3 linked regions of the Homo sapiens genome follow. The protein of the gene in region 2 purifies or fractionates together with the protein of the main gene of each other region. This does not show direct contact. Each region holds a gene or a part of one and is shown on either strand. Other genes may lie near its edges.

Region 1 (7,024 bases), on a different chromosome or scaffold from region 2:
GTACCATTTGCCTTTTGGTGCCTCTGTCAATCCAACGCAGCCATAATGGAACCATTCTATAGGGCACTAGAAAGCAAAATTGCAAAAAACAAGTTTTCAGTACTTCTGAAGACAAGAGAGTATATTAAAATATGCTCAGGAGACTGAATAATCCATTTAATTTAACAATAATTAGATGTGTGACATCAGAATTTTTAGATCTAGATTATTTAGACATCATTTAGACTAAATGATAAGCTTCAGGAATGAGGAAATGAAGGCACAGAAAAATTATGCATCTTCAAGAATCCTGAGGTCCATGTAATCTAGTCCCCTCATCCTAATGAATGAAAATTCACTAGTTTTCAGCTTTCAAGGGCAAAAAGAAGTGGGATGAATCTTCTATGTAGAAGGTAAATATAACTTAAGATTTTATTTAATAGTCAGCCTTATTTGCTGTCTCATAAAGTAGAATAAGCTGATTGTAATTAAAGACATTAATTTATGTCTTATGCCCTGCATTTCCTACGTGGGTGTTTCTATTCCTTGAAATGTAGAGAAAAATTATTCCTCTTTGAAACATATTAAGCAGAAAACTCTTTCATGAAAGTCTTAGCACTCAGAAGAGCACAACTGGGAATAAGAAGAATCAGAGAAGCATGATGCTGGTACTCATAGAAATCTCATTCATCATTTTCACTAACTGCCCCAGAAGAGTTTACAGTGATGTTCTTGAAATGGTTGGGCAATATTGTTTTTGCAACAACCACAAACAGCCTACAAGGGATTCTAGACAGGGAAACAGAAGGAGGCTCTGTCCCAATCTACGTGAGCATGTTGCTGTAACCCTATCAGGTCTAGGAAAAGTACACATTTTAATGCACCTAGCCAGCTCCCTCAATCTTCAGATTGTTTTACAAATTTAAAACTCTTGTTAATCTTAGGATCCTGTCACTACTAAATAAGGAGGGAGTCAAAATTACTAGACAACAATATTCTCAGTATTGAATAAAAAACGTATCTCTAACTAAAATTAAGTCTCCTAAAAACCAAGAATTCCTTCCTTTCAAATTTCCTTTACTTTTTAGATCAGGGGTGGCTCTTATCAGCTGACACCTGCAGAGTACAGGAAAAAATATTATACTCATGAGAGGAAGATAATCTCACATTAGATCCTCAATTATCCCACCCTTCACTTTAGCACGGTGCAGCCTGAAAGAATGAATTGTTTTAAAATTCCATTTCTTCAATGTGATAAATGAACTGGATTCTAGTAAACACAGTATTTTTTAGTAAAGGGAAAGGAGGGTATTTATAATTTTCATACAACATAACACTTCTGAGACAATCTGCACATAAAACCATAAAATTAGCTTTAAAAATTAAAATAGGGAACACATTAAGGGACACTACCCTATTTTGAAGAGGAATATTCTAGCATTAGCATAATATAACTAATATACCTGCAAACCTGTTTTCTTAGACCAAACCATACAGCAAATAAGACAAATATTCAAGTAATAACAACCTGTGATTTTTTTCATTCCTAAATAGAAAAATGTAATACTTACATCTTGGTTATCACATCCCACCATCTCACCATAAGATACCTAGTTAAAAAAAATTAAATGTCTTTATTATGACTATGTAACAAACACCTAGATACCAATTAACTGTTTATGTATGATACTGCTGGAAAATAAAGGGAAATACACTGAATATACAATTACATTGAGAATCAAGGTATAATAATTTTTTCCTGAAATACTCTTTTGGGCAGGGTGGGGCAAGGGTGGGAAGAAATGCACAGGAATTATCTGCCCTTCAGAAGTCTGGAAGAACTTGACATATAAATCACCCGGATGAAGGAGTCATCTTTCTGGGTAGTTCTTATTGTAAAAATTTTAAGTTCCTTTCTTGATTATTTACTTACTGAAAGTTTTTACTTCTTGGGTCACATTAGGTCATTTATATTTTTGCAATTAATAGTCTCCTTCCTTGAAACTTCTAAACTTATCTATTTTATGTCCTTTCTCATTTTTCTTTTGCTCTTCATCACCAGCACTTTAGGGCATAACTTGCTAATTCTTGAGTTCACTGAAGTTCTCAGTGGATTGAATAATTTTTCAGACAGGATTAACTAGATGGCATATCTTCTGATTCTCTGCATGAGTGAAAATATATTTACATGGTCCTATGCAGAGAAATAACTTCTCTGAATATCAAGTTTTTGGGGGCTCTTAATTTTTCCCTGAAAGCTCTACAGACATATTCCATCACCTTCTAGTTTTTTAGTGTTACAGAGGAAAACTCTAGGTTCAGTCTGATTTTGTTCTTTTGCAAGTAATCTACTTTTGTTGTCAGGATACAGGATATGCTTTTCTATCATTTGTACTGAAAAATGTTTATCGGGTGATAGTGGAACAGCTAACAAATTGTTAAAATTTTTAAAAATCAGACTGGCAACTCATACTGTTAGACACAATAATCTGCTGATAGACTAAGTCTTAAATGTGAAGAAACTGAAGCATGCAAAGAACTAGACAAAACCATATAAAAACTAGGAGAAAATATTATACAAGACAATTTTTTGTAGAAAGAAGAGCCAAAGAGAAAGCCCTTCTAAGTATATAATCCATGGCTTGCTTCATAAAAAAAAATTAACAGTCATAACTACATAAAATTAAAATTTTAGAATTATTTTTAAAAAACTAAATCAAGCAAATATTTAGAGTACATAACAAAAACAATAGAAAAATCAGCCGACACCATTAGGAGTCGATTCATAATGTAAAAAACAAAAATGGTCAAAAAATGTCCAACTTCAATAATACTAGTGTATTTAAAACAATCATAATATAAAACTACCAAATTGGTACTTAGTTTTTAAAAGAAAATAATATCCAGTGTTGGACAGGGTTTAGTAAACCGGTATGTTTATTAATTTTTGGTAATAAATTTCTAGAAAATATATTTTGGTGTCTGTCAAATATTTACAGCCTAATTTTATTTCTAAAAGATTATCCAAGAAATTAGATGTATAAAATGGATTACATTTAAAAAATGCCTATCGTAATATTATCCCTAATTTCAAACAAATTAAAACCACTAATATAATCTATAGCTAGGTATTGGTTAAGAAAACTACACTGGATGGCATAAGAGATAACTATGTGAAAATTAAAAATATGATCTTAAAGAAAAATCATGTTCGGTATACCTGATTTAGAGAAAAAAGCCAGTAACAAGAAAGTATACACTGTGGTTCCTACTGACAAACTTATACACACATGCATGTGCAAATCTGCATAGACACGTGTTATGAAATGCAAGCTTATGTCTCAAAATCATATGTTGAAGCCCTAACCCCCAACGTGACTATAATTGGAAACAGGGCCTGTGAGGAGGTGGTAAAGGTTAAATGAGGTCATAGAGTGGGGTCCTACTCTGACAAGGCTGGTGCCCTTATAAGAAAAGACACCAGAGCACACTCTTTCTCCCTCTATCATGTGAGGACCCGGTGAGAAGGCAGCAGTCTCCATCTAGGAAGGGAGCCCTCCTCCAGAACTGAGTCAGTGGACACCTTGATCTTGGACTTCCCAGCCTTCATACCTGTGAGAAAATTATTTTCTGTTGTTTAAGCTACCCAGTCTGTTGTATTTTATTAAGGCAGCCAATGTGCACATGAGGTATATGGTAGTGGTATACCAAAAATGTTTAGTTACAGGTTGTATCTGAGGGCTAGGATTATGGGTAACATTTTTCTTTATACTCAGTATTTACAGCAAATGTCACTTTTGTAAGAAGGGGGAGAAAAGTATACAAATAAAGCAAAGGTATTTTAAGTGAGTTTAAAAAAGTGCTTAAAAATGAAATAGTTCTCTTCCTTCTAGTTTATTCAGATTATACTTTTATAGATATAACAGACTTTTACCTGATTACAAATGCAGTATCGAGGTTCATTTGGGTCGTAAGTCCAATCAACCTGACTATTTGAATCAGATTCTGGCACTACAGTTGTTTGTTGAGAGATTTCTTGTACAACAGTTGATGATGAAGAACACGATGATAAGGAAGAAGAGGAGGAGGAAGATGATGACTGCTGGCTTGAAGACTTGTTGTTGTTTCTGAAAAAAATAGTATAAGTTTTATTTGCTCACCATCCAGAAGTTAACTGAGAATAACTCCTAAATAAATAGTATAAAATGAAATGACATCAAATGTATAAATTAAAGTGTAAGCTAAAGTAATCCGGATTTACCAATGACTTAAATTGTAGGTAGTACTTTGAAGAATTAACATAAGTTCTGGCTACTTTACAGACATTATTTGTATTTTTTTTTTTTTTTTGAGATGGAGTCTCGCTCTGTTGCCCAGACTGGAGTGCAGTGGCGCGATCTCTGCACACCGCAAGCTCCACCTCCCAGGTTCACGCCATTCTCCTGCCTCAGCCTCCCGAGTAGCTGGGACTACAGGCGCCCGCCACCATGCCTGGCTAATTTTTTGTATTTTTAGTAGAGATGGGGTTTCATCGTGTTAGCCAGGATGGTCTCGATCTCCTGACCTCGTGATCTGCCCACCTCGGCCTCCCAAAGTGCTGGGATTATAGGCATGAGCCACCCCGCCCAGCCACTCATTATTCGTATTTTTAAGTAAACTGAATACTCTTCATCAAAACCTAAAGCACACACACACAAAAACATTTGATGAAAGTGGTTATAACCATCAACTGATGTGTGAATACCTACCATGAGTATGGCAGGGAACCAAGACTGTAAAAATTCACAAGTAATTTACTGCTAAGCCCTATGCTATTTAAATTCTAAAAGTATAGAACTTTATCATAAGAAATTACATTAAACTTGTACCATTAAGATGAATTAATTTTTAAGATGTTTGACACTTCTGTTGTGGTTATTTCATATTGATCGTTCTTTAAGGGATTAATTCACAAAAAATATAACATATTTTAAAATACAGAAAATATAACTACTAGGTAACTAATTATTTTGGCCTAGCATTTGAACTTTCATTATGTATAAACACCCAGCATATTCAGTTACCTGGGATAGACAGTGATAAATGCTATTAGGTTTTCATATTTAAAGCTTATACAGTCATCCCAAGTCTCATATACAAAATCTAGGGATATTTTTACACCATCAGTTTTTGGGACCCAAGACTAAGAATGAAGACGCCTTGCTTGCTGTTAATCAAAATGAAAAATCTTGTTTAAAAAAAAAAAATCACCAGGATATAATTTGCATTGCATTAATTTACCTTGAAACACATGGCAAAATAAAGGGTAATAAATGAAAAGCAGTTCCATAAAATGATTTATCTTAATGAATAAAAGAAGATAAAAAGAAGTCATGTATTAACAAACTCAATTTATGACTCTAGAAAAATTAAAAACAACTCTAACACTTTTTAAAGACTTGACACCTTCAAAGTATGGCACTATAAAATGAAAACCGCATGTCTCCCTACCTCTGCAAGGTTAATTTTAATCCGTTATATCCTGCCTTTAACATAGAGAGGCCTGGCTGAAGTGTCAAGTAGACCAAGTGTTCAGTAAAGGTATAGGGCTACTGTAACAATAAAACTTACTTGCTCTTTCGACCACTCCGTGAGTCGGCTGCTGATGAACTGGCATTCTGTGTTAATGTTGTCATAAGTGCCGAAGATGATGAATAGCCAACTGTTTCCCTGGCCATTGAAAATTCTTTTCCCAACTGAAAGTCATTATTCTTAAATGCTTCATAACTGGCTTTTAAACTTGATGTTCTTCGTCCCTCCTTCATCTTAAATAGACATTCATTGATAGCATCAATATATGTAAATATGTAGATTTTCTTTTTCAAGTTTTACAAATTATAGTTTTATTTTGGTTTATCAAATGTTAATTTATATTGTTTAAACTATTATTTTCATCACTGGAATTTAAGCTTTTTTTTTTTTTTTTTTTTGAGGTGGAGTTTCAATCTGTCGCTTGGGCTGGAGTCTAGTGGCACGATTTTGGCTCGCTGCAACCTCCACCTCTCAGGTTCAAGCAATTCTCCTGCCATAGCCTACCGAGTAGCTGGGATTACAGGCACCCACCAGGCACCCAGCTAATTTTTTTGTATTTTTAGTAGAAATGGAGTTTCACCATGTTGACCAGGCTGGTTTTGAACTCCTGACCTCAAGTGATCCACCTGCCTCGGCCTATCAAAGAGCTGGGATTACAGGTGTGAGTCACCATGCCTGGCCTAACCTTTTTCATTTAAAGATTTAAAATAAGATTTTACACAGTTAGAATATAAACTATGGGATGGGCAGCTTCTTAATTTGGAATATAGGCAAACTATACAGAAGTGAACAAACTCAAGATGACCTAAGTCCAAGGCTACAGGGGAAGCCTTGGAACTGGCAGAAAGAACGAAGAACTATGCTAGCATGTGCTGTGGACTGCAGTCAAGAACATGGGCAACATGAGCAGTTATTGTGAGAAGGGTCTGCATGTAATCCGCATGATAAACCTATTTTTTAGTTTTCATTATCAATCAGGCAATTCCTATGTATTATTTCATTAAATAAAATATCACATATCGTGAAATCATGACTTAAAAATGAAAATATACAACGTTAGAAAACTATTTGTTCACATCCCGTTATTTCTATTAGGTTTCCAATGATTCCGACAAAATGTAACATTTTGTCTCTAAACCCTTTACTTTTTACCTGAGCTGTAGCCTGAACTGCTTGAGCAGCTGCCATGGTAATTGCCCCTGCACCAGTTCCTGAAGATAACGAGCCAATGTTATAGGATCCCAGAGGTTGGGAGGAATTCACATTGTAGGCATTGTTAGAAGAGGCTGTGGAATTATTATTTCGACAACCTGTGTAGATGTAAAAAAGAAATAAAAATGGTTGCAGAGAACATAATGTTAGTGAGTCTAAATTACATTATTTCCCAGCACAGACATATAATCATTAAAATTTTTAATGTCACTTGTACATTAAGTCAACTGAATAATGTATTTGGTTTTCCTTTTTCTTCTTT
Region 2 (7,577 bases):
TCTGATGCTTTCCCCAAACTCCCTGAAGATGAAAAAACTGAGAAACGAAAAATCACTTGGCTGAAAACAGAATATCCAGAATCTTATTTTTGTCTTCCTGTTCAGTTAAAAAAATCTGCATACTGACACGTGACCCTCTGAACCCAAAGCTTCCTCCTGAGCTGGGAGCCCCTTGCATTTGGGCCCACAGAGGGGCCTGGTCCTCCTGAGGACCTGCCTGCGGCGGGCACTGCAGGGACCGCCGCTCAGACCCTGGCCTACAACATGGAGCAGGCACTCAGCTCCTGGGGAGGGGGCACTGCAGGATCCATCCTGTGCCTAGATGACCTGCCTGGGGCCTCTGCACCGCAGGCTCTACGCCCACCTGACTGTGCCCTGCCTGAAGGCAGTCTTGGGGTGCTGAGCCCCAAAGGGCATCAGGGCAGGGTGAGCTCCACACTCACCATCGTCAGCCCCATTGTGGGGGTCCACGTCTTCCTTCATCTCCTCTTTCATCTCCTCTTCTATCATCACTTTTCCTGTGGAGGAGACAGCTGACGCTCACCGAAAACCCACGGTGGTGGCCGACGCTGGGGGATGGTCAGGCCAGGGACTGCTCCGACGCTTGCTGCCCACACAGGCCTCAGCTTCCGTCCAGCCACTGCTCTCAAACAAAGTCCTCTCCAATCCCGGAGGTTCCAAGACCACCCAAGCACAGGTAGGGCGGGGTCTGCGCTGGACCCTCACACCTCCCTGGAGGCCCGGGGTCCTCACCCTCACCTCCCTGCCCTTGGCCAGGGTCTGGCCTTTTCTGAATCCCAAGCCCAACCTTTCCCGAGCCTCACCTTCTCGGACCTCCTGAATGATCTCTTCTGGAAGGACGAAGTTCCTCTCTGGATTCGGGAATGGAAGAATCTCAGACTCATGCTGATATCAAATAGAGAGTTTTGTTTAAGAAACAAGGGTGAAGATGCAGTTTCAAGAAGTCACTAGAGCCGTGTAAGAGCCACTTGGGGAGAGGCCAATGAGCACACATCACTGTGTTGGAGGCTGCGGCGGGCGGGGCAAGGGCAAAGGGCATTTCTTCTTTTTGTGAACAGCGCCTGCCACAGCTGGGCTTTCCAGACAGACCCAGGGAGGGCAGAACCAGCGGCAGCAGATGCAGGAGTCAGGAAGACCCACCGGGGCCAGCATCACTAAGGCGGGCCCTGAGGACCGGGCAGCCCTGGTGACACACACCTGTGGGCTCCGCCTGCCCAGCACGGCCTGCAGTCTCACCATGAGACTGCGTTCCCCAAGGCGGCATGCAGAGGGCACAGTGACAGCCCTGGGGAAAGGCCGCAGGCACCTCGAGTTCTCATCCACGTGGCAGGAGCCCATGGACACCGAGGGTGTCGGTTGGGAGCGCCACAGGCACAGAACCAGGCAAAGAAGAAGAGAGTGCTTGCCAGGCACTGCCCTCCTGAGGTCGCACAGACCAGAGGGAGAGACCTATGTCATACTGATGGCCGGTGTGGCCCTGAGTCCAACGTGGCTGGCACAGACTCTCCACCAGCACAGGTCCCCACTCCTCCTGGTCACCTGACCCCTGACCCCCACCCCACTCTCCAAGTACACCACCTTCTTTGAGCTCCTGGACCCACCACCTCCTGCTGCCACAGGGCCTGGAACACCCACCTGTCTCTTCTGGCCACCCTGCTTACCTAGTTAACCCGCTCGCCCGTCACACAGTGCCAGCTCCAAGCTCTGCGAGGACTGGAACTCTACTTGTCTGACTCCCACAGAAGTCACCAAATTCACCTTGGTGTGACTCAGATAGGGTCACCCTCTGCCTAAAGCACTTCGGGGGCCTCCCAGGAGGCTGACAATGGCCTAAGGGCCCGGGACTCTGCATCCTTCCCTCCCTCCCCAGGGTCTCAGCTGGAGACTCTGGCCCAGCACCCAGTCTAAAGCAGAGCCCCTGAAAAGCTAGCCAGCTGCTAGCACTGTGTTTGTGCTTTCCATGACAGGCTCTGGAGCCCCGGGATGTCCTCCTTAAGGACGAGCCTCACTGCAGGGGTCTCTGCCCAGGGGACCCCAGCAGGCACGGAGGGGCCTCTGCCCAGCTCAGGCTGACCCTGAGAGCTCACTGCAGACCCCAGCAGGCATGGAGGGGCCTCTACTCTGCCCAGCAGACCCCAGCAGACATGGAGGGGCCTCTGCCCAGCTCAGGCTGACTCTCAGAGAGCGGTGTGCGGGTTCGTGCCCCCATCGGGCGGCACAGGGAGGGCGGTTGGGCTCACCAGCGCCTGCATGTCGTACATGGTGCTCAGATGGTCCCAGATGACCTTGGATGGGACCTGCCGCCCGATGTTCTGGCTGAACTTGTCCCGAATACAAATCATGTGGAAGTGTCGGTTCACACCTGAGGGGAGGAGGGGCGGCGGGATAACCGGTGAGCGGTGAGGAGAAAGGGGATGGAGGGGACGGGCTGCCCTGGGGACTGGAGGGGCAAGGGTGGCTGCGGAGAGATGGGGAGGGCCAGGGTGTGGAGGGGCTGTGGGGGGGCAGGGCTGGGTGGTGTGTGTGGGAGGGGGTGGGCTGTCCCGGGGCGGGGGTGGGGGTGGGGCACTGCGGGCTGGGACCTCGCGGTCTCACGGGGGTAGGGGTCGTGGGCGGGGTCCGGGGCGGGGTCCGAAGGGCGCGTGGGAGGGGGCGGGGGTCCCGGGACGGGTGTGGCGGCGGTGTCACGGCCCGGGCTCGGCGGGGAGCGTGGGGGCGAGGGTGTCGCGAGCGCAGGCCCCGCCCCGCCCCGCCGGTTGCCCGCCCCGCCCCCACGCGCGTCCGCAGCCTGGGCGCTCACCGACGGGCTTGTGGCCCAGCATGGCGTGGAAGAGGCACACCTCCACCTCGGGGCTCCACACCACTGTCTCCTCCGCCGGGCTGGTGGCCGCCTCCCCCGGGCCCTTGTCGCCTGCGGCGCCCCCGCCGCCCACCTCGGCCTCTCCCATGGCCGCGGCCCGGCCGAGCAAGGAGCCCCCGGCGGGAGCAGGCGCGGCCACGAGCTCCGCGCAGGCGCACTCGGGGGCGGGCGCGCGCTCCGCCGGGTACGCGCTCGGGCTCACGCGCCGGCGTCGGCGCAGGCGCAGCCGAGGTCTCGGGTCCCTTCCCGCCGGGGACTCCGCCCTGCTCCGCCCCGCGCGGGGGTTCTTAAAACGTGTTCCTCTTTAAAGCACAGTAAGAAATACACTGCACCCAAACAAAAAAGTCTGTGCTTCAAAGGAAACCATCAGAAAAGTGAAAAGACGACCCACAGATGAGAGAAAATATTTGCAAATCCTATATCTGATAATGAACTTCCTTGTAGAAGGTATAAATAATTCTTATAACTCGATAATAAAAAGACAATCTAACTATAAAACGGCTAAGGATTTGGATACACATTTTTCCAAAGAAGATGTACAGATGGGCCGGGCGCGGTGGCTCACGCCTGTAATCCCAGCACTTTGGGGGGCCGAGGCGGGCGGATCACCTGAGGTCAGGAGTTCGAGACAAGCCTGGCCAACATCGTATAACCCCGTCTCTACTAAAAATACAAAAAAAGTAGCCGGGCGTAGTGGCGGGCGCCTGTAATCCCAGTTACTCGGGAGGCTGAGGCAGGAGAATCGCTTGAACCCGGGAGGCAGTGAGCCGAGATCGCGCCATTGCAATCCAGCCTGGGCAACAAGAGCGAAACTCCGACTCGAAAAAAAAAAAAAGATGTACAGATATGGCTAATGAGCACCATCGGTCACGCGAAACTAGAATCAGCCCGCGTGGGGACCCCCTGCCCCGCCGAGACCGCCACAACCACGCGGCCGGGGTGACGAGTGCTGCGAGGGTCAGGGCTCGGGACCCTCGTGCGGTCGTGCTGTGCGGTCAGATGGGCCGCTGCTGCGAAAGACAGTCTGGCCGTTCCTTCAACGATGGAACCGTCTCCCTAGGAAGCAGCAGCTCCGTGGCGGGCGCCCGCGGCAGTGGAACAAGACACAGGTTCAGGCTGGGACCCGCAGCCGCGAGGCAAGCGCCGCCCCCAACCCGGGGCTGAACCTGCGAGGGGCGCCCGGAGCGCGGGCACCCGCACGGCGCAGCCGCGTTCAGCCTAAAAGCAGCGAGCGCGGACTGCGGCAGCGTGGGTGCGGGCTGAGACGAAAGTCAGAGAATTCAGACACGAAAATACACAGCATGGGAATCCATTCACAGGAAGAGCCAGAACTGGCAACTCCATAGGAATAGAAAGTAGATGCACGGTTGCCGGGGACGGGGGAGGGGGAGGGAAACGCGAGTCACTGCGGATGGGGACCGGCTTCTTTTTTGTTTGTTTTTGAGGCAGAGTCTCGCTCTGTTGCCCGGGCTGGGGTGCAATGGCACGATCTCGCCTCACTGCAACCTCTGCCTCTTGGGTTCAAGCGATTCTACTGCCTCAGACTCCCGGGTAGCTGGGACTACAGGCGCTCACCACGGCCGGCTAATTTTTGTATTTTTAGTAGAGACGCGGTTTCACTATGTTGGCCAGGCTGGTCTCGAACTCTTGACCTCAGGTGATCCTTCCTCCTCGGCCTCTCAAAGTGCTGGGATTACAGGCTTGAGCCACCGCGCCCGGCCGGGCCCAGCTTCATTTTAAGGAGGTGAAATGCTCTGGAATTAGATAGTGGCCACGGTTGCTCGCAACAAAACCCCACCGAATCGTGCGCTTTAAGCGGGTGAACTTAACGGTCTCAATAAAGATGTTAAGGAAAAAACAAAACCAGAAACCCCACAATTACTGCAGGCATAGGGCTCGCTGCCCGGGTCTGGGTGCGGGACGGAGGGGCTCACGCCCGCCCCCAGAGTCCAGCGCCTGCTGGGAGAAAGGGCAAGTAGGGGGTCCGGCCCTGCCGGCCTTGACCGCCTGCCTCCGACTCCCGGCCGCCGCGCAGCCCAAGCTCTGGGGAAGCGTTAACCGCGGGTCGCTGCGGAGGCCCCACCGCGGGGCGGGGCCGGGGCCGGACGGTGAAGAGGGGGCGAGATCAGGGCGGGGCCTAGGCTGGGGCCGGGCGGGGAAGCGCTCGGGAGGGCGGCTCGGGGGCGGGTCAGGGGCGGGGCCGCCAGGTCAAAACGCATCCATGACGAGCTTAAGGCGGCCTCCAATCAAGGCCGCCGCGGCCTCCGGCTCCGCCCGCTCCGCCTCTGCCTCCGCCTCCGCCTCCGCCCTGCCCTCACGGGCTTCTCTCCGCCCCATTCCCTCTCGGCCACGCCCACCACGGCCCACTGGCCAGGGAGCCGCTACGCAGATGTTTTCGCCTCTGCGGGTGTAGGCTCCGGGTCGGGCTTCCGGGTCCCTTTCCTGGCTCTGGCGCCTTCCAGCTGTGTGACCGGGCGAGGCCCTGAGCCTCTTGAGGGTTCAGTGCCCTCCTCCGTACAATGGGCCAACAACAGCCCCTTCCCTGGGGATCTCGGTGAGGGTTGGTTGCTCTGCAGGGTGCCCTGGGCCTGTGCCAGCGCGCTCAGGCATCCTGGTGACCAACCACAGCTGGCACTGGTGAACGCAGCCTCTTAGCCCAGGCAGGCTCTGGTCAGCCTCACCTGCTGGGACCGCTGAGTGGTCCAAGAGCTGGCTTGGCTGACTGGGACCTGGGCCTCAGCTTCCCCATCTGTGCAGGGGGCCGCTGGTGATACCGGTCCCTGCCATGCCCTGGTGGAGATATGGCCCAGTGAGACTTCGTGAGGGGTCTAGGCCACTGCTGTCACGTGGTACGTCTTCTACCCTGGCCCCTAGGTGGCCCTGGCCTCAGCCTTGCTCTAAAGAGGAATGAAGCCCAGCCCACAGCCCCTTAGCACAGATACGCTCGGGAGACGGGACCCTCACCGTTACTCATCTCCTTACTGTTCCCTGGACACCTTGGGGTCCCTGCGCCTCTCCACCCGTCCCTGCCAGGTACTCTCCTCCTTCAGTCTGGAGCGCCTCCTCCCTTGGGGGTCCCCTGTGCCTATTGAGAAAAGATGGCATAAAAGCGTGAGACAGGAGCCCGGACCAGGAGACCCGAGGGTGCTGAGCCCCACATTGGGCCGGGTCCACATGGAGACACACGCTTGGCTCATCCCAGCCGGGGCTGTCTGCCTGCTCCAGTGGGAACCTGGGCAGGGGTACTGTCTCCAGGGCTCTATGCTGGGCGGTCGTCATGAAATACCTGCTTTCCCCACACGCCCCCTCCTTTCTGAGGCAGGTGCCGCTGTCACGCCTGCTTTGAGGGGAGGAGTCAGAGATGAGTAGAGTGGGGAACTGCCTGGGTTGAGGGCAGAGCCGGGAATCAACCCTCAGAAGCCTGGCTCCAGCCGACCCCTGACCAACCTCCCTTCTTGGCCTGCTCTAGTCCCTGTGGACCCTCACCTGGGCTCCCCTTGCAAATCACCCTGCAGCCCCCTGGGGTGCAAATGCCTGCCCCCACCCCTTTGCCTGTCTCTCTCCTGCGCAGCCTTCACTCTCAGCTCCAAGGTCACCGCCCCAGCTGTGAGGGTCCCATTTGGTCTCTGTGGCCACACACCTGTGTTTCTCACTCAATAAGTGCTTTGTGGGATACACTTTGCACACTTGTCATTGTGAATCACGGATGATAATTTGTTCAACGTGTGCCTCCCCTGCCAGGCTATCAGCTGGCTCCAGGGGGCCAGGGCTGGGAATGGCGTGGCACCACTGTCCCCCACCTCTCAGGCAAGGCCAACACACAGCAGGTGGACAGTGACCATTTGTGGACTGGCTACACAACCTACTGACCCATTCCCTCCCTTACGGGGATGGAATGAATGATCCTCACTCTTTGATCCCTGTTGCTCAAATTTCCTTCAAAAGATGGATGTGGCTTCCCAAATATCTTGATCCCAGGAACAGAGGACTTGGATCCCAAGTGGGAAACGCTCAGGCCCTGGAAAGGCTTTCCCATGGTCAGTGAACATACAAGCCTTCCAGCTTATAGATCAGTCTTGTATAAGTCTAGCTGCATGAATCATTCCTCAGATCGGCTCTGGGTTCTAAGTGGAGTTTCTTGCCTGGGGAGCTGATGTCATCTCTGGAAGGGGGTGACCACTGCTAACCAGAGGGTGCCCATCTCCCAGCCCCATGGGGACACCTGGTTCTTGGTCATGAGAGTCGGGTGCAATGGAAGGGATGTTTAGAAGGCTTTGCTCAAACATACCCTTGCGTGTCCACATGCCTGTGGTCACAGTTTCCTCCTGTCTGGCTGAGTGTCTGGGACAGAAGTGGAATTCCATTGCAACGAGGCTGACATGGCTGATGGGACTGCTCCCTCTGCCACTCATACCTGAGACCCCAGACACTGTAGAAAGAACGCAGCCTTTGCAGCTGGGCAGCCACTGTGGGTTTTGTTTCCCCAGGTCCTCCTGCTCCACCACAGGCCATCTCCCTGGGCCTCATCCAGACAGCTGGACACTGAGCACAGCTCTGTTGTCCTCTTCCCTGGGCTGAGTGGACTCAGAGGTGCTGGGGACTGCATGGCCGCCGGACGAGGCGGGGGCTTTCCAACCCAACACCACCGAGCCTGCCTCTTCCTGCCCTGGATGCTATGTCTTCCATAGAGCCGCTT
Region 3 (6,932 bases), on a different chromosome or scaffold from region 2:
GTGAGCTGGCTCCCTGTGGCCGACACGCCCTACCCCAGCTCCCTCCAGCCCTGGCGGTGTTATCCAGTGCAGTAGACACACTACCACCTCGGGATCTCTGTACTTCTCTCTGCCTGGAATATTTTTCCTTAACTTCCAGTCTCTGATGAAACATAACTGCCTGTGGGCCCTTCCTTGACCACCCTACTTGAAACTGCAACCTCCAGCCTTCCCGGGCACTGTTTGTTCCCTTCCTTCACTTTTCTTCCAAATACTGGTCGTAATATATTTTAAATGCATTTATTTATTTATTTTCCCCCTATGAGAGTATAAGCTCCATGAGGGCAGGAATTATTTTCCCCACAGTTGTAGGACCTAAAGTGGTCCCAGGCATTGCAGTCATTCAGTAAGTAACTGTTGAAGAAAATGAACTTAAAGTCATCACCCCCCATTTCCATCCCCTCCTTTATGGAATGATTCTAATATAAGTCACACAGAGGTTCTTGGGTTGAAAACAAAAGCAAAAGACCACTACACATTAGTTTGTCAACATGTAATGCCCTGGGTTTATTTTGTGAGAATTCTATCACAATTTTTCCAGGTGGGATTAAAAACCTTAAGGATAATGTATGCCATTGGACTGGGCATTCAGACTTCGGTACTGACAAAGCACTAGTAGTAGTCTGTTAAGTACCATTCTCTTCACAGAAGAGAGGTCAAATATTTCCAAAGGAAGGCACCCGATATTTGTGGTTCTGGCCTTGCAGCCTTCTGGAGAATCTTAAAAGGAAAAAAGCTGGCTGGCTGTTTTTAGAAACTGGAATGATGATACACGTACAGCAATTACTGCATTCTTCTCCCTTATATCCTTTTCGTAAGAACAAGTAAAGAATGAAGTCTTTTAAACAATTCGACAATAAAAAAGTACAATTTTTTTTGTGCTAAAAAAAGGGCAAGACAACATAAACTCCAGTTGTAAGGACTCCATTTGCATACTTGATTTAACACTTTTTGGTGTGGAAGGAAATGGGACTACTGGGCTGTTCGCAGAGCAGCAACATAATATTAGTGCTTTAAGTACCAGAAACCACCCACAGCTTTGTGGGCAAGTTGGGGATGGAAAGATTCAAGAGACTTCATTTTTAGCTTGTTACTTGTCCTAATGATAGTAGACCAGGAAGATCCCCATTTAATAGTACATTCCCCATTTTTAAAAAAACTGATGCCTTTTTTTTTTTTTTTTTTTTTGTAAAATTCTGTATGTATGTCACCATTTTTTTTCACATGATACACAGAAAACTCAAGGACCCAGAGGGGAACCAAGTTATGTTATACCATTTACAAAATACCAAGGAGTCCACAGCTACCTAACACATTTACTACAGCACAGGAACCAATGAAGGTACAGTGTACAAAAAACTGTAAACACGGCACAATAAATAGATAAAACAGCAGGTTCCGCACCATGCACATGATGTGATGACACTTCATCTCTATACAATCTCACATCTCACACTCTTTGTTGCAATTGATTTCCCTCCCACCCCCCACCCCCAAGTGCAAAGCATCACAAATGAACATTTCTGTATTCAAGTAACATATATACAAGGGTATTACAAATATGCAGTACTGTACAGATAATTGCTGTATTCTTAATTTACAGATGTTGATTTTTTTCCTATTAACAGTAAGAAAAGAAAAATTGAAGCATGAGAGATGAGCATTGCTGTCAAGTCCCCACAGCTGCCACAGAAACGCATGTGCTGCTTTCCATCATCCCTTGCATTCAAAATGCTACTGATGCATAGCACCTAATCAAGTCCCCAGGCTGCAGTTCCACTCGGAGGAAGCTACGTCACCTCCATCGCTACTGTGTTGTCTGCTATGTTGTTCAGTGCTGGCTTTTCTGATTCATGATTTTCCCTGTTGAAATAAAGTTCAATCAATTACTTATCTACAACATAAATATTCAGCAAATGAACATTATCTTCCCAACAAAAAGTTTATTTTTATTAACAGGAAGAAATTGGACTCTTTGGGAACAAGCTAGCAAGTAGAGGAATACGAATCTTTATAGTTTATTATCAGAAATCAGGCTAATGTTGACTATAAATAAATTCCACAGTCAACTACATTACCATCAAAATTATAGTAGTACTCAAGCAACCTAGATGTTAAAAACAAAGAATTCCCATGTTTTAGTAATTGTTGTTTCAAGTTCCTTCTCTATTAAACCTTTCAAAAGAGTTTTTAAAAAGGAAACAAACATAACTGAGATTTGTGTCAGGCTTTAAATCAGTCTAATACATGGAGCTGAGTGGCACAGCCACAGAGCTCGAGGGCCCTAGTGGTTCTACAGTCTAGACTTTTGAGTGTCCTTAGAGAAATACATTAACTTCTCTGCGTCTCAGTTTCTTCATCTTTAAAAACAAAAGGACATGTGATATGAAAATTCTATACATGGCAAATATTCCATGGTTAAACAATTCTAGAGCAGTAAAATCATGATATGAGTCAGAACTATAGCTGACAGATGAGCTATATAATTAGACCCAGAATACTATTAAGAATGGATTGGCATTAAGCAGACAATGACTGTTACTTAAATTCAGAAGCAGATGCAGATGCATGGTTTGGAAACTACAGGCCACAGTTCATTGCTACAAACCCTGCTTTCTTCTGGGCCACTCCTGGCTGAGACAGTCTACCAGTCTGGCATTTAAAGTGCTCCAGGAATCTGGAATGGCTTCTCCTGCCATTCCAATTTAAACTACTAACCTTCCTGAGCCTATACAAAAACCAGTTTACTTGTTAACTTCTAAACACTTGTATTTCCTCAACTTTGTATTTTCACTCAGCCTCAAATTTGTATTTCACTCCACCTGCCAGAAATGCTTTTTCTTTCTCCTCTTTGCCCGAAGACTAACACAGATTGGATCTGATCTTATTTTGTTAGAAGAGTCCCAGAATTCCCTGTGCAAAAAAAGATTTCTCCTTATACTGAATTACAGCCATCATCTATACAATTAATTTAACAAGTATATAATGCTTTGTGATATCTACAATTAGCATTATTGGACTTCTCACTCTTTTATGCTTGTCTGCTAACTAAACTGAAAACACCTGTCTTTTTCTTTTGTTTCTCCCACAGTACCTTGTAGACAGCAGGATTTTAACTACCCTTAATTCTACAACATAATAGAGCATAAGCAAAATTCTCAACTGTCTACTGAAATCCAAGACGGCAAGTTAGCACAAAAAATAATGGTTCAATTTAGAGTTGACCTGGCATGAATACTGTAAGTCTTTACATTAATAAGAATAGCTTAACGCCGGGCGTGGTGGCTCATGCCTGTAATTCCAGCACTTTGGGAGGCCAAGGCAGGCTGACCACCTGAGGTCAGGGGTTCAAGACTAGCATGGCCAACATGGTGAAACCCCGTCCCTGCTAAAAATGCAAAAATTAGCCAGGCATCGCGGTGTATGCCTGTAATCCCATCTACTCAGAAGGCTGAGACAGAATCACTTGAACCTGGGAGGCAGAGATTGCAGTGAGCTGAGATTGTGCCACTGCACTCCAGCCTGGGCAACAGAGCGAGACTCGGTCTCAAAAAAAAAAAAAAAAAAAAAAAAAAAAGAATAGCTTAGCATACCAGTGATGGGGCAGGGGTTTCTATCAATTCTACCTGTTTACATGAGAAGCTGTGGAAAAAAAGTCATAAAAGAAACGCTCTCAGGAGAACTCCTTCCATCCAAAGACGGAAGAAAACTGAGAGCATTATACGCTTTTTTTTTTTTTTGAGACAGAGTTTAGCTCTTGTTGCCCTGGCCAGAGTGCAATGGTGCGATCTTGGTTGCAACCTCCACCTCCCAGGTTCAAGCGATTCTCCTGCCTCAGCCTCCTGAGTAGCTGAGATTACAGGCATGCGCCACCATGCCCGGGTGATTTTGTATTTTTAGTAGAGGTGGCCTTTCACCATGTTGGATCGGCTGTTCTCGAACTCCTGACCTTAGGTGATCTGCCTGCCTCTGCCTCCCAAAGTGCTAGGATTACAGGCGTGAGCCACTGCACCTGGTATAACTATTGTTATAGTAAGAAAGGGATGTTCCAAATCATATATGCAACATTCACTATACCAGTTAGTTCAAATTCTTAATATTGAATTAAGTGTTCAAGAACTGTTTAGTTCTTGAATAAATAAGTGATCAATTCTCAACTATACATTTTCAATGTATAAAAGGAAAAGAACAAGAAACACAAAGAAATAGGTAAAGAACGATGCTGGAGGACTGAAGTTAGATCTCTTATTCCAGGTATGTTAGGCAAAAATAACTACTCACCTTGGAACTGAATCTACAGAGGATGAAGATGGGACCTTGGAAACTTGACAGTTTGCTGCAGCGGCCAGCTTTAAGGCAGATGATGGAACAGCACTTAAAGTCCTAGGTATATGTCGTGCATTTATTGGGGCAATAGAGTTTACAGTGGCAACTGATGAAGGTACAGTTAATCGAATGTTGTTCCCAATCAGAACCTGAGTTGTTGCAGAATTGGCAGCAGTTACTTGATGACTCAGTGCACTGTGGGAACTTGAAGTCTGTGTAATATTTGAAGGCTGTAACAAAGCTGAACCTGCCGTTGATGGACTTGTATGTACAAGTGCTGTTGGTGTAGTACTACTGAGGTGTAAGCCCTTGTATACTCCTAGAGAGAAAAAGAAAGAAACATCTAAACAATGTACAACTTTGCTGTTTATATTATAGATATATGTTATAAATATAACCCAAACAATTTAAATGTCTTTATTCTTACCTGAGGCTGGAAGGACGCCATTCACCCCGATTCCAAGCACCACATCATCCTTCATCTTGAATCCCATCAGTTGTTCTGATGTCACCAAAGCAGAAGCAGCAAACTGTGCACTAGCAGAATCCAAAGTCTTAGAAACAAAACCCTAAAAAGAAAATACAAAAGAAATCTAATCAGTATCACTTAGTATCAAATCAATATCAAAACTACACATGCATACCAAAATCAGTTTGAATATAAGTAAAAATGGCAAACCACTGAAATCTTTCTATTTTGGTACCTTGAGATGCAACAGTAATTATATCTCTTTTGATAGTCATATATTTGATAAGTGAAAAGTAATCTAAGTTATAAATTTTGCTTCATATGTGACAATATATAATATGTATAAGTCAATTACCAAAATAAGCCTTCTATAATGTGGAAACAGCAAACCTCCAACACAAAATGTTGGACAAGAAATATGCTAGTAAACATTTCAGTGATTTGCAAATCCATATAATGAATAAATGAATATGTAAACTTCCTTCACCTAACTTATACACACACACATATGTATACACACACAATGAAAGGCACCTTTGGGATAAGATAACTATCCCTTTAGAAATGGAAGTAACAAAATATCACATAATTTAACCTAGAAATTGATAGGCCCCTCAACTTTTTAAAAATATATTTTTCCTGCAAGATGCAGGGACTCAAACCTCAGCCTTTATGCCCTACATGTGTTTAACTGGCAAACGTTTATCATGCTTTAGGTTTAAAAGTTATCTCTTTCAACAGTTGGAGAGGTTATTTTTGCATAATGTTAAAAGCCTTAATAATAATTAACATGCCCAAGAGAATGAACTGGGTGGGGTTATATATTCAAGAGGTACATTAATGGACTACAGGTCAGACGGGAAGACAGTATCTTCATCTCATTTAACTAAGTGCTTTAGTTTTACTTTTTAAAATAGGGAGCAGAGGCAACAGCTTCCATACTCACCTGTAGTGTTCTTTCTAAACCCTGTATATTCAGGCGAAAGCCACTTTTCTGCTGGTTAGATGCAAGGTTCTATGACAACAGTTGGTAATTAGAGATGAACTCTGGTGGGAAACAATGAGGGATAATCATAAGACAGACAAATCCCTCACCTGTGATGTGTTGGTGGAGGAATTACTATTTGCTTGCTGTTGCTGAATTTGTGCAAGCTGCTGTTTCTGCATGAGTGCCAGTTGCTGTTGATGTTGCTGGTATTGTTCGGCTGTAAATGCTGAACATAAAATAAAGAAACACTTTATAAAAATGCCCAGCTGTCATGTATGTCTTACAGTACTAAAACAAAAATTCTGCATTAAATCTGTGCAAAATTGAAGCATCTGACAAAGGATCATGATCCTGCTAAAGATCACTTCCAAATGAAAATTTCTGCGTTTCTGCTACCACATTTAACAAGAGTGGCATGAATTTAAAGAAAAAAAAAATTAAACTTCCTGAATTAAACACAGGAAAGAGAACTGCTCACTTCCCAAATTTCAACACCACTATTTTTTTTTTAAGCTGTGACACTTGTTCTACACAGTGTAGAAAGATAATATCAGCTTTTAAAATCCATAGATTTGGAATTCAGCTTTGCACTGAGCTTGAGAGAATATCTGATAATTACATTTGGTTTCTATTTAATCCATATCTTCCCAAGGCATTCAGATGATCCCTAATGGCTCTGTGTATATATACTAATAGTTCTACATATTTTCTAATTGTAGTCATTAAAAAAATTTGCTCTATATGAAAGATTACAGTTGTTGGTTGGTTTATTGCTTTTTTTTAAAGAACTCATCCTTTAAGTTTAACAGGAAGAAAAGAGGCTCTAATGTTAAGGTTAATTAATTTTCCCCACCCAATTAACCCACCTGGAAAAAATCCAGTCAATAAGAACGGAGTTGTTTATGTTGATTTACTGTACAGAATGATGTCTGAGGAAAGACACTGTGTTATGCTACTTATGTTTGTCTATGGAGAGCTCAGTTCTAAAAAAAACAAACAAAAAAATGTTCATTTATTACCCCCCCAAAAAAGTGTGTGCAGTTTTTAAAAAGGAAACCTTTTTCTCTTTTTTGCCAATTAAAAAAAAAAAAAGCACATACAATCACAATA

What was found.
Region 1: the proteins of MRGBP (region 2) and ING3 purify together in Homo sapiens (co-immunoprecipitation; 5 studies listed by BioGRID and IntAct, with this or other methods). This does not show direct contact.
Region 3: the proteins of MRGBP (region 2) and EPC1 purify together in Homo sapiens (affinity purification with mass spectrometry; 7 studies listed by BioGRID and IntAct, with this or other methods). This does not show direct contact.

Annotation. Positions count from the first base shown.
Region 1 is NC_000007.14:120,967,770-120,974,793, reverse strand, and holds part of ING3 (inhibitor of growth protein 3), read right to left. Parts: intron 6,861-7,024; coding exon 6,703-6,860; intron 5,784-6,702; coding exon 5,590-5,783; intron 4,107-5,589; coding exon 3,914-4,106; intron 3,594-3,913; exon of another isoform or gene 3,449-3,593; intron 1,590-3,448; coding exon 1,551-1,589; intron 67-1,550; coding exon 1-66. UniProt on the Homo sapiens protein: Component of the NuA4 histone acetyltransferase (HAT) complex which is involved in transcriptional activation of select genes principally by acetylation of nucleosomal histones H4 and H2A.
Region 2 is NC_000020.11:62,791,916-62,799,492, reverse strand, and holds the start of MRGBP (MRG/MORF4L-binding protein), read right to left. Parts: upstream 3,021-7,577; 5' UTR 2,970-3,020; coding exon 2,822-2,969; intron 2,384-2,821; coding exon 2,262-2,383; intron 907-2,261; coding exon 825-906; intron 641-824; exon of another isoform or gene 519-640; coding exon 444-518; intron 38-443; coding exon 1-37.
Region 3 is NC_000010.11:32,267,234-32,274,165, forward strand, and holds the end of EPC1 (enhancer of polycomb homolog 1), read right to left. Parts: intron 6,806-6,932; exon of another isoform or gene 6,689-6,805; intron 6,049-6,688; coding exon 5,930-6,048; intron 5,882-5,929; exon of another isoform or gene 5,850-5,881; coding exon of another isoform or gene 5,781-5,849; intron 4,935-5,780; coding exon 4,793-4,934; intron 4,685-4,792; coding exon 4,321-4,684; intron 1,903-4,320; coding exon 1,830-1,902; 3' UTR 518-1,829; downstream 1-517. UniProt on the Homo sapiens protein: Component of the NuA4 histone acetyltransferase (HAT) complex, a multiprotein complex involved in transcriptional activation of select genes principally by acetylation of nucleosomal histones H4 and H2A.